2 separate regions of the Homo sapiens genome follow, and region 2 is linked to region 1. The links come from fine-mapping of genetic effects on gene expression. A gene starts in region 1. The other region holds a variant in brackets. All regions are shown on one strand. Distances are from middle to middle.

Region 1 (3,020 bases):
ACCTAATTTTTGTATTTTAGTAGGGGCTGGTCTCGAACCCCTTCCATTGTGATCCACCTGCCTCGGCCTCCCAAAGTGCTGGGATTACAGGCATGCACCACTGAGCCCAGCCTAGTCTTGAACTCTTGATGAGGGAATCCCTGACCCCTCTGTGTTTTCACTTTGGGATTTCTTCCTGTTTATTAAATGAATGACCTTGGTACTTTTTGGAGAAAATGACAAAAAGGAGCATCAAGGCTCCAGATGTATGGGAGCTGCAGAACTGAAACTGCCGTGGGCTTTTGGGGGTAGATTTGGGGTCTTGGGGGTAGATTTGAGTGGGACTGGGGAGGAGTGGGGTGCAATCGAGTCTTTAGACCATGCATGTGACATGGAGGTCCCTGGTGTAGCCTCCCATGTCTGCATTTCTAATTGGCTTGGATGAGGCATCCCAATAGTTACTTCTAAGAATAGTCATGGCTAATATTTATCAAGAGCTTTCTATGTGGCAGGTACTTTGCATGTGTTTTTCCTTTAATTCTGACAATGGACCCTCTGTGGTGGGTGCTTTTATTATCCACATTTTCAGATGAGGAAACTGAAGTATAGAGAGTTGAAACAACTTGGTCGAGGCCCCACTGCTACAGTGCTAAGGCCAGCTACAAAGCGAGGTCTGACTCTGACCGTCCTGGGTACAGGAGCCTTGTCTGCTCCACTTGTCCCTTGGAGCGTTGTTCTTGCTGGTCCTCTTCACACCCCAGCTCTTGTCTCCTACCTCCTGCCCCCTCTACTGTCCTGTCCCCGCATCCCTGATTTCCCCCCTAAAACATATATTTTATTATAGCTACTTTTTACTCTCTGTCTAATGGGTTGCCCCACAGTCCACAATCACATTTTGAGGAAGGAGAACTTCCCAGAGTTCATGAACAGATTTTGGAGTGCCTCTTTGCGGTGCTTGTTTCCAAAACCAACATGCTGTGGACCTTTCAAAGACACAGTACACACAAACACACACACACCCTCCCTCCAACACAAATAAACCCACATGCGGCCGGGCATGGTGGCTCACGCCTGTAATTCCAGCACTTTGGGAGGCCGAGGTGGGCGGATCACCTGAGGTCAGGAGTTCGAGAGCAGCCTGACCAACATGGTGAAACCCCATTTCTACTAAAAATACAAAAAATCAGTGGGGCATGGTGGCGCACGCCTGCAATCCCAGCTACTCGGGAGGCTGAGGCAGGAGAACTGCTTGAACCCGGGAGGCGGAGGCTGCAGTGAGCTGAGATTGCGCCATTGCACTCCAGCTTGGGCAACAAGAGTGAAACTCTGTCTACAAAAAAAAAAAAAAAAAAAAAAAAACAAACCCCACATGCACATAAACCGAAACACACACGAACACACAAACACCCACATGAACATGCGCACAAGCCCCCCACATCAAACTCAGATGCACACAGCAAGCATGCATGTAAGCCACACACTTGCCACTCTGGCTGCCTCAGCACTGCAGAGCCCCTCTCCCCGGCCTCTAGTTGGATCCCTGGTGCACACTGGAGGGAAATAAAACCTACCCCAACAGGAAGTGAAACAGTTGGTGAGCTTTTCCGGTGCTCTGCACAGATGCTGGGGCGCTGAGCAAACAGCCCTCAGTTTCTGGAGCTGTTCCGAGGTAACTGGGGTCCTTTGGGAGCTGTGGGATGATGAGGTTCAGGAGGTAGCTGGGAAGTCCGGAGCTTGGGCTTGATCCACCTGCACCTCTCCCTGTCTCCATCTGAGCTGGGTCTGAGACTCTCAGTGGAGGAGTAACAGGCTTTCTCCCAACAGGCTTTTGAAAATGGGCCCAAGGGCATTTACTCAGGACCACAGATGCATGTGGCCTACTCCACTGTCACCAGGCTGGAGTGTGGTGGCACGATCTCGGCTCTCTGCAACTTCTGCCTCTCGAGTTCAAGCCATTCTTGTGCCTCAGCCTCCCTAATAGCTGTGATTACAGGCACCCACCACCACGCCCGGCTAATTTTTGTATTTTTAGTAGAGACGGGGTTTCACCGTGTTGGCCAGGCTGGTCTTGAACGACTGACGTCAGGTGATCTGCCTGCCTCGGCCTTCCAAAGGGCTGGGATCACAGGCAGAGCCACCACACCCAGCCTCCTTTCTTCTTAGTCTGGAAGCAAACTACTTTATGAAGTTTTCATGCATCCTCTTTTAAAAGTAAAAGGAAAATCTTGTGGAGGAGAGAAGATGAAGTAGATATAGCAATAAATTGTGAATAAGGATTGTTTTTACTAGTATTCAACCAGGCAGGTCTTGACCACCATTAGATAAACTTCTGTCTGGCAGCCTGGAAAAGTTCACAGTTGCTGGGACACAAATGCTTTTGGGGTCCTTCTTGGAGAGGATGGAGTTGAAGATTTGGGAGCTTGATGGCCTTTGTTATGTGTCACCAGGGAGACAGGGACAAGGGGCGGGGCTGTTGATGGAGAATGTGGCATGGGGTAGGTGGGATGGTGACATAGAAGTCACCGTGCTCCTGCCCTAGAGATTTTAGTAGCAGGCAAACACCGTGGTCAAAAAAGAGAGTCAAGGACTTAATGAAGTTAAAGGGGTTCTGCTGACGTCCAGCACTCTGATTTTGGGGGTACAGCTTCTGCCATAACTGCATATTGCTGATACTAGTTCCTTCTTAAAATTTTCTTTGCTATCTGATGTACTACAGAATAACTGAGCTGGGAAGAATCTTGGATATTAAAATGATTTAATGAGTAGCAAACTTTCCATTTTTGTCATATCCTTGCACCTCTATTTACTTAATATTTTTCTTTAACTTAAAAATTTTTCAACAAAAACAATAATAGTTACGATATCATGGGTTTGATGTGCTAATACATGTTTTAAAATTACCTATCTGTCAACATAACCCCTATCCATTTGTGAGCCACCTAAGATTGTATTTATGCCACTGATGATATTCATGCTGCACTTGGAAAACCACTGATCTTGTCCAAGTTACCTTTTTTGTAGGTGAGGACACTGAGATCTGG
Region 2 (2,768 bases), 38 kb after region 1:
GCAGCAGTGAGGGTCCCCAGTGGGGTGGAATTTTGGGCAAGACTGTAGACAAAGCAAAAAGGACATGGGGGGAGGCCAGTGAAGTGGGACGGACCATGGGATGCTGCTCCCCATGGTTTCTTGGGGTCCTTTGTGTCTGTGTTCAGTTAGCGCTTCTCTGAGCAGGAACAGAAGTGACCCGATGTTTGCAGTGCTGATGAAACATGAGGAGGAGCATAAGGACTGGCTCTGTTCCTTATGTCTCCTTGTGACTCTGCCCAGAAGTCATCCCCATACTGGGGAGATAGTGATGGGAAGATGAAGGGAGCTGATGGGGCTCAAGGTCTCACCTCACTTGTGACTACTCTTTTTAGGGATCAGAGTTCATCTTTCTCCCTTCCCTCCTATTGCGCAGGTGCTGAAACTGGTGTCTGACTTGAGGAACCACCCTGTAGCCACTCTGATGGCCACTGGGCACCCCATGGTGATCAGCTCTGATGACCCAGCTATGTTTGGTGCCAAAGGCTTGTCCTATGATTTCTATGAGGTCTTCATGGGCATTGGGGGGATGAAGGCTGACCTGAGGACCCTCAAACAGCTGGCCATGAACTCTATCAAGTGAGTGTCCTGTGTCCTCCCAGGTCCCCCGCCTCCTTCCAGCCCGCAGCTTGTGTTTGCCTCTCTGGAGGCTTGAGGCAGATGCCTCGATGGTTCCTGTGGGTTCCTTCTCATCATGGCTGTTTAGTCCTTGCTGCTGGCCTGGGGAGAGTGCTCTGCAAGGCTCTAATGTCCTCTCAGGCTCCCTGCCCCGTTCCCCAACCCCTGCCCTGAGGCTGACCTGGGCTCCTCCTCTTCCTGCAGGTACAGTACCCTGTTGGAGAGTGAGAAAAATACTTTCATGGAAATCTGGAAGAAGAGATGGGATAAGTTCATAGCAGATGTGGCTACAAAGTGAGGAGAAGCTAGCCAGCCCTCTACAAGCTGTCTTCTTGCACACGCTGTCACTTCCTCTCACTCGTTCTTGAATCAGCTCCATGTGCCCATGAAATCAATGGCCTCTGTATGGAGCGACCCTGTGAGAAGCACTTGGCTGGCTGAGCAAATTCATCCTCTGGAAATATTCTCTCTCAGCCACAGTGACATTGACCCTCTTGGTTTTCTCCTGTCTCTGGCCATTTCTTCCAGTTTCCCTATTTCAGAGTCTTCTCCTCTCTCTGATCTCTGTGCTGTTTCCTCAGGACTCAGTCCTGGGCTCTCTTCTATTCTGGTCTCTTTATTTTTTTATTTTTGTATTTTTTCGAGATGGAGTTTTGCTCTTGTTGCCCAGGCTGGAGTACAATGGTGCGATCTCAGCTCAGTGCAACCTCCGCCACCCGGGTTCAGGCAATTCTC[T/A]TGCATCAGCCTCGCGAGTAGTTGGAATTATAGGCATGTGCCACCACACCCAGCTGATTTTTGCATTTTTAGTAGAGACAGGTTTTCACCATGTTGGCGAGGCTGGTATCCAACTCTTGACCTCAGGTGATCCACTCGCCCCTTGGCTCCCAAAGTGCTGGAATTACAGGCATTAGCCACCATGCCTGGCCTATTCTGGTCTCTTTAACTCTCTCCTCTTTATTTCTCTTCTCTCTCTGTACACTTTTCCTGGGTGGTCTCATCCATTCCTTTGCTTTTTCATACCATTTATTTGTTAATGATTCCCACATTTATTTATGCACTTGGAGAGCTCACAGGAATCTCAGAAACTGATGAGGTACAATTCTGAACCCTCAGTCTCTTCCCTTTAAACCTTTCTTTTTCTCTACTTTAATTTTTCTAAAGAGTGTCTTGCTATGTTGCCCAGGCTGGTCTCCAACTCAAGTGATCCTCCTGCCGCAGTCTCCCGAAGTGCTGGGATTACTGACATGAGCCACCACACTCAGCCCTTTAAACCTTTCCCTGGCCTTTCCCATAGCTGGTGAAGGACACCTCCATCCATTCCACGCAGTTGCTCAAAGCAGAAATTTTCAGTGCAAGTCTTGATGCTGCGCCGTCCCCCACTCCCTACATCAGAACGCATCCCTCATCTGGACTCCAGCGGTGGCTTCTTGATGCTGCGCGGTCCCCCACTCCCTACATCAGAATGCATCCCGCATCCAGACTCCAGCGGTGGTGCTCTACCTGCACGCTGTTGCCAAGTCCAAGCTACCATACTCCTGCCTGAGCTATGACAACAGCCTCCTCACTGATCTCCCCTTTCTTCCCTTTGCCTCCTCCAGCTCATTTTTCACAGTGTAGAATGACATTTTGTTTGTTTGTTTTGTTTTGTTTGAGATGGAGTCTCGCTCTGTTGCCCAGGGTGGAGTGCAGCGGTGCGATCTCGGCTCACTGCAACCTCCACCTCCCGGGTTCAAGCGGATTCTCGTGCCTCAGCCTCCTGAGTAGCTGGGATTACAGGCATGCACCACCATGCCCGGATAATTTTTGTATTTTTAGTAGAGATGGGGTTTCACTATGTTGGCCAGGCTGGTCTCGAACACCTGACCTCGTGGTCCACCCGCCTCGGCCTCCCAAAGCACTGGGATTACAGGCGTGAGCCACCCGGCCTGGCCTAGAATGACTTTTAAAAGATCAAATTAAATCAGGTCACTCCTTTGCTTACAACGCAGTGCGTTTAGAGGTACACCCCATGTCTCCACAGGGCATACAGCATCCGATTTAATCTGGATCCATTCCGGCGCCTTCCTCTCCCAGTCACCCAGAGGGCCCCAACCCCGGCGGCCCTTTCTTCCTCAAATGTCCTCGGCTCTATA

The links. PIP is the estimated chance that this variant, and not a neighbour inherited with it, causes the effect. A credible set is the group of variants that fine-mapping cannot tell apart.
Region 2: its variant is the best candidate, but not a certain one, in a credible set for the expression of ADA2 in whole blood (TOPMed, PIP 0.61).

Annotation. Positions count from the first base shown.
Region 1 is chr22:17,217,984-17,221,003 of GRCh38, reverse strand. It overlaps ADA2 (adenosine deaminase 2), which reads left to right and starts at 1,569. Exons shown (of 10, transcript NM_001282225.2): 1 at 1,569-1,648. RefSeq lists enhancers at 1,782-1,911, 1,922-1,991, 1,832-2,192.
Region 2 is chr22:17,179,649-17,182,416 of GRCh38, reverse strand. It overlaps ADA2 (adenosine deaminase 2), which reads left to right. Exons shown (of 10, transcript NM_001282225.2): 9 at 395-597; 10 at 841-2,768. The coding sequence ends at 934. Among named protein-coding and RNA genes, the nearest start is that of HDHD5-AS1, 22 kb to the right of the region's middle. The variant T/A (reference allele first, on the strand shown) is at 1,372.